Linked DNA regions of Homo sapiens. The protein of the gene in region 1 purifies or fractionates together with the protein of each later gene. This does not show direct contact. Each region holds a gene or a part of one and is shown on either strand. Other genes may lie near its edges.

Region 1 (3,500 bases):
CACCTCAGCCTCCCAAGTAGCTGGAATGACAGATGTGTGCCACCATATCCGGCTAATTTTTTGTATTTTAGTAGAGATGGGGTTTCACCATGTTGGCCAGGCTGGTCTCAAATTCCTGACCTCAAATGATATGCCCACCTCAGCCTCCCAAAGTGCTGGGATTATAGACGTGAGCCACCAGGCCTGGCCTGTTTACAAATATTAATGTCAGGAGTTAAACATCTTCAAGTCCAACCTATGATAAAAGACCAATGCTTCCTACTACTTGCATGGGGTTCACTATTTACTTTTTCTCGGGAGTATCACAGGAAGATCACAATTACACCACTTTAGACTGTACACGCAGCAATTCACAACTTACTCCTGTGTGTTTAGGTGTATCTGGAAGACCTGTATCTGTTAATGAACATTGTTTACTGTCATAGAGGGGAAAATAAGATTCCTGCATCTGGGCCCTTGACTGATAATTAAAGGGGTTCCTGTTACCTGCTCTCCCTGTTACATGCATCTGTCCACTTGGCTAACTTTTAATATGTATATTTTTATATTATGTAAATTCTTAACAGGCCTATCTCATTTAAATTGTATACACCATTATATCTGACATTATTGTAACTACTGTACAATCAATAAAATTCCTATAAGAAACACTGCTTAAAACAAATATCATGCTGAGGGGTGACCTATATCCCACATTAGTTGGTGGTCACTTTATTTATAGGATGCTTAAAATAAATATATTTTAATGAACTAAGTTGAAGAAAAGCACAATTAAAAGCTATCAAAAAAACTGATGCCCAGTGTTGAAAGTGGGGCCAGGTGGGAGGTGTTTGGATCATGGGGATAGATCCTTCATGAATGGCTTGGTGCCTTCTCTCCAGGTAATGAGTAATTTCTCACTCTATTAGTTCTCACAAGATGTGATTGTTATAAAGAGTTTTGCACCTCCTCTTTTCCTGCTCCCTCTCTTACCACGTGACACTCCCGCTCCCCTTCTCCTTCTGCCATGATTAAAGCTTCCTGAGTTCCTCACTAAAAGCAGAACTTGGTGCCTGCCTCTTGTACAGCCTGCTGACCTTTTAACCAAGTAAACCATTTTTCTTTTTAACTTACCCAGCCTCAGCTATTCCTTTAGAGCAAAGCGAAATGGACTAAGACACTTCCTTTCCTGGACAATTCCTTTATGGGTATGTTAGGGTTTGATGCTCTAGGTTTCCTGTTTTTGTGTTCCATGGCTGAGCAAGACCCCTTGTTTATGAACATGAATTCTTTTAAAGAATTACTATGCAATATATCATACACATAAAATGTATATGCCTAGCAATAAATAATAAAAAGAATAACTGGACACCTATACTCAGGATAAGATATAAATATTGCCAAGAATTTTTGAAGTTACATCTTTCTCAGATTTCAACCTTCTTCTCTTTTTGAAATTTAATCATTATCCTGAGTTGTGAATCAATTACTTCCTTGCCTTTTTAAATGATGTTATTTTATATGAAAACAATATAGACTTGCAAAAAATTGAAATTATTGACTATCCTTGTTAATTGTGTTTTCACTCATCATTGTGTTAAAGATTCATCCGTGCTCATGTATTTAATTCTAGTCTAGTCATTCTCACTTCCATACATTATTCCATTATTTATCCATGTTATTCTTGATGGGCTTTTCAGTGGTTTTCAGTTTGCTGCGCTAGACTTTACAAGTTGCTATGAATACTGTTTACATATCTTTCTGTTACTATTGGCCTTGGAACCATCCATTTTCTTTAGAAGACTGTATACTTCTATTTTTAATCAATTTTGCATTTATCTTGCAATTATTCTGAGGGAAACTTTGTTTTCCTCATTCTGGCCTTCTTAGTTAGCAGTTTACTGTAGCCCTTTGAAAATATGCTGATATCACCTTAGATAATTCATTCAGAGAAACTATTAAATTAACACAGTAATGCCAATTAACTGTCTCTGTAGAGCTGTTTTCTGTTCCTTAGAGGCCCCACAGAAGCCTCGGACATGTTCTGGGTGATATGTAAAAGACTTTATAGTTCTATGACATCACATAATTTCCTTTTTTCACAAAATTGTGTTGGTGTTCCCTAAGTATCTTAAATTGAATTAACTCTAAATAAATATATAGGAACTCTGGTGGAATAAGAAAAAAGGAAGTACTACTTCTATCTCAAATAGGTGAAGCAATTACTCATTTCAGTGTCCACTTTCAATTGATCAGTTGATTTCAGCCTTCATTACACTGAGGGTCTAAATTCTTCTCACTAAAGGAGCCTGCCAGATTTAACAAATAAAAATAGAGGACACCATGTTAAATTTGAATTTCAGATAAATAATAAATAAAATTTTAGTGGCAATATATCTAATGTAACATTTGAGATCTACTCATACTAAAAAAAGTATTCATCCTTTATCTGAAATGCAATTAACTATGCATACCGTATTTTATCTGGCAACCCTATATCGATTCTACTAGTTAGAGCACTCAAGGTTTCCCTTAAGCTGTTCGATTTAAGATATTTCTTGTATGTCAAAAAGTCACTAGCTATGGGACACTTAGCTGACTTTTCACTGTTCTTGCCTACATCTTCATTTTATAGAGTACATTACCTTCAAGCAAAACACTGAGAGGCTTCTAAAAACTATTTTGCTTAAGGAGGATCACTTTTGCTCATGGTTCTCTAATAAGAACATTTTCCAAGGTGCAGCAAGTTTCGATCTTCAAAAACCCGCAGCTACTCACAGTGTAAGATGCCTGTCGGGGTGGGGCTCTGGGCCTGGAAAAACTAGAGCAGTCTGGATGCTGCGAGGCGGCGAGCAGGTAAGAAGCTTTTTGAACCTCATGGGATCCCATACTGGCAACTGCCTTGGCAGAATAGTTTATTTAGTCTCCTTTAGCCAATCAGATTGCTGTTTGATTGCCACGCGCTTACTTCCTTCACTACCATCAGTCCTAACCGCAGGCCAACTTTCTTCCCAGAGCTTTTAGGGGCCTGGCCTTTGCAGTTCCAGATCTACTACAGCAAACATCGTTCAAGATGTCCCACCAAGAAGGCAGCACAGACGGCTTACCAGACTTAGGGACTGAAAGCCTGTTCAGCAGCCCAGAGGAGCAGTCTGGAGCCGTGGCGGCGACAGAGGCCTCCTCAGACATTGACATAGCGACCTCAGAGCTGAGTGTGACAGTGACCGGAGATGGCAGTGATAGCAGGGATGGTGGATTCCCCAACGATGCCAGCACAGAAAATCGAAGCTCAGACCAAGAAAGCGCAAGTGAAGACATCGAACTTGAGAGCTTGGAGGACTTTGAGCATTTCCTCATGAGTGGTGAAAGTTTATTCCATTACCCTTTAGTGGGAGAGGAGGAGACAGAAAGGGAGGAGGAAGACGAAGAGATACAAGAGGAGGGAGGGGAGGAGGAGGAAGAGGAGGAGGAGGAGGAGGAGGAGGAGGAGGAGGAGGAGGAGGAGGAAGAAGAACAGCCTC
Region 2 (3,640 bases), on another chromosome or scaffold:
CATAAAAACTATCAACAAGGCTGAGGTGGGTAGATCATGAGGTCAAGAGATTGAGACCATCCTGGCCAACATGGTAAAACCCCGTCTCTACTAAAAATACAAAAAGTAGCCGGGAGTGGTGGCACACACCTGTAGTCCCAGATACTCAGGAGGCTGAGGCCGCAGAATCACTCGAACCCAGGAGGCAGAGGTTGCAGTGAGCTGAGATCGTTCCACTGCACTCTAGACTGGTGACACAGTGAGACTCTGTCATAAAAAAAAAAAAAAAAAAAAAAAAAAAAAAAACACACACACCTATCAACAAAGGAGGGCAGGGCAAGAGCCTGCTCAATGATTACAGGTTACAGGCCATTGGAATATGCCACATCCACAAGTCACAAGTACAAACTTCAAAATTCTGATGATCGCCAACATGGTGAAGCAGGATCCACTGGGCTTATAGGCCCATCTGAAAACGGGGAGCAGAGGATCAACGGAATTGGAACTAGGGATGAGAGAAGAAAAAAACCACATGCAAGACAGAGAATGAGCCTCAGAAGGAAAGTGACAGCATGACACACAACCTCCATGCTTCTTTTCAGCCTTTCCTGGGACCATAGAGGGGCCAAAGCCCTTGAGATTCTCAACATCCACTAAGCTAAGCCACCATGAGTTATGGTTAACTTGGGCTCCTAGAATCTGATCCTGAGACAAGGATTCCTGCTCAAGAGACTTGTAAGGCAGTGTTTTCCGGAAAAGACTGGTAGGGGAGTAGAGAAGGTGGACAAGAGAGGGAAGGAAGTCAAGCTAACATGTGATACTAAGGAAAGTCCCAAGCATGGTAACTTTAGTTCAACTGTACAAAGAAACTGAAAACAGTATGGGTCATACTTTAGAGCTGTTCCATTCTCAAGGTGACAAGATAGGAAACTAATGTCATTACAGTGCCATTGGTTAAGGACTGTTCCCTTTTGCAGAGTGTCAATTCCCAGGCTCCCTATGCACACAGGCAAAACAGCTTCAGGAGCTTTGACAAAGAGATGGGTGCTGGCTATTGGGAGTGAGCTAACACCAAGGCAGTATGCAGGGAAGGGAGTAAGGGGGAAACAATAGGAGCACTAACAGCATCTGCTGACACTTTTCAAGTCCTCATGTCTTTAACACTGTCACCACTTTTTGGAAAAAAGAACATCACTCAGAGCCACCAGCAAAAGAAGGAATCATCAGCCCCTCCAGCAGGGGTGACTGGGTACAGAGGAAACAGGTGGCTCTTGCTGCCTTCAGACTGACACTTGGGAGAAACTTACATTACCTGAGGTATAGGTAAGGGACTGTTAAAGGACACCTGCCCAAAAGCACAGAAGATCTATTTTTCAAATGATTGGTCCCAAATCGCGCCCTTAGTAAAGGCTCCTGGGTGCAAAGCTGCCATACATATGGTGTGTCTGCCAGTAAAGTAACCTCCCAGCAGCACTCAAAAACCCACTGCTCAGACACTACCTATCAATTAGAAGCCAAGCAGGAAAAAAGGTTATTTGAAGGCACTGGTTTCAAGGCACCAGTTTCAATTTGATGATTTCTCATTCACTCTGCTGGCTAGAATCAAAGTAGCATATTGAAAATCCAGGTATTTGAAATAGCAGTATTTAAATTTTTTGTTCCAAGTAACTCTTCTATAGATAAGAGTTGTATTATTCAGCCTGAGAAGGAGAGGTTACATTTTATGCTTTAAAATCAGACTACTATCTGCAATCATCATGATGAAATGGTATTCACCATGCTTGCACATGTGTGGGCTTCTTTCTGGATCTATGCAAAGCAAAGCCCACATTGTCTTTTCCAATGGGTTGGAAGCCAAGCACTCACACTGACCACATGCATGCCACTGTGACAACAGAGACCATCATCAGCTCCACCTTTGGAGCTGATGTGAGAGTGAATGAGACTGACTCACTTTGACATCACCCTGAAAGTGTCTGGCACTGACTGGTGCTCTTTCTCCATCCAGAAAAACCTCACTACAAAGAAAACAATTTCTCAAAGGTGAGGTGTTGGGTCTTCTGAGAACAGGAGTGTCTCTGTTCAAAGAGAAGTGCCCTTTGGCCCCCGACCTACCAAAAAAAAATCACATAACATATAAACTGCCACTTGAAGGGAACAGATCAAGAAGAGCAAGAACACATTTAATTGGATGGAGGGAAAAAGAAACTATTTTCTTAGATAACTAGAAATACACTAATTTCTTACTGAACAGTATTTAATACAAGCTAATATATATTTAAATGTTTCATATTCCAATAATAACATCTTCTAACTATCACAAAAGCAACAGGTATAATCAAAGGGCTTTAAATTTTCCATTCCCAAAAATGTATAAATGCTGTTAGCATAATGGGTAATTATTTCCATCATACATAATACATTGATGTGTGTGTCTGGCTCCAGTGTTCATCACATTAGGAAAGCCCACTAGCAAGTTAAAAATAAAAGGGAACATTGGCTATTTTGATAATACACTAAAATGAATAATCTCTAAGAAACAAAGTGAATCTGAGTAGCAGGCACGACTTCCCTGTGTAACTTATGATTCACATGCATACTGAGAAGCCAGCTTGGCAAGTGGGGAGACCATGGTTAGGCAACTACACAACTGCTTCTCATAGTAAAGCACAAGTGTGTTAATTGCCAGGAAGAATAACAACTGCTCAAAACATAAATCTAGAAGATACTGTCTTGGGTCCCAGAAAATCTCCTTAATTTCATAATCAAGACCCTAAATGATTAAGAACTGGAAACCCATTAACAGAGCAAGGTGCAGCCCAGCAGCCCTTAGGGAAGAACTCTAATATTTGTTTGGGATTAATTATGCCAACCCCTCACACCAATGAAGCTACTTTTTAAGTGTCTTATATCCAAGACCTTTCTCTGGTGACACCAGTTTTGTACATCTCCATAACCTGAGAAAAAGTACACTGAAACCCAAGTTCAGACTCCCACTACTTCATCATTCCTAAGAATTAACATGCAATGTATTCATTTCTAACTAAAAATCAAATTGAGTGTTTTCTCCTACAAGTATTGTCTTTAAAAGCAATCCGATATTAATTCTTGTTCTTCAAAACTAGGGCTCCGAAGATTAAGGGTTTATTCAATTGTCCATTAGCCTCATATGAGCACTATTTCAAGGTCATGGAAAATGCATATCATGGAAAAAAATTCACATGGATTTCAGAGTTTTCTGCACCAAAACAAACCCATAGTTTTATACTTGTTATAACAAGTATGAATGGGATCTAGAACAGGGTCTAGTTTGAGGCACTAAGAAAGTTAAGTCATCAGTTTGAAAAGAAGCCCCTATCAGGGCAACATGAATTCTACTAAAATTGAAGCAAGACCAAACATCAAATTTATGACGAAGTGTGGAGAGAAGAATTGTGAAATCATGACTTTATGAAAAGTTTATGGGGACAATCAGTTTTTAAGTGGATAATTCATTTGAAGAAGGGACGAAGCGATGTCAAAGATGAAGCCTGTACCAGCAGACCATCCACACCCATTTGAGAGAAAAAAAAAAAAAATGTAGCTTGTTTGTGCCCTAATTGAAGAGGGCTGACAATGGTAGAAACAATAGCCAACACCACAGACATCTCAATTGGTTCAG

What was found. Proteins that work in one complex are often made in the same cells at the same time.
Region 2: the proteins of DCAF8L2 (region 1) and MYO5B purify together in Homo sapiens (affinity purification with mass spectrometry; one large-scale study listed by BioGRID and IntAct). This does not show direct contact.

Annotation. Positions count from the first base shown.
Region 1 is NC_000023.11:27,743,844-27,747,343, forward strand, and holds part of DCAF8L2 (DDB1- and CUL4-associated factor 8-like protein 2), read left to right. Parts: intron 1-2,614; exon of another isoform or gene 2,615-2,835; intron 2,836-2,994; 5' UTR 2,995-3,052; coding exon 3,053-3,500.
Region 2 is NC_000018.10:50,188,533-50,192,172, forward strand, and holds part of MYO5B (unconventional myosin-Vb), read right to left. Parts: intron 1-3,640. UniProt on the Homo sapiens protein: May be involved in vesicular trafficking via its association with the CART complex. The CART complex is necessary for efficient transferrin receptor recycling but not for EGFR degradation.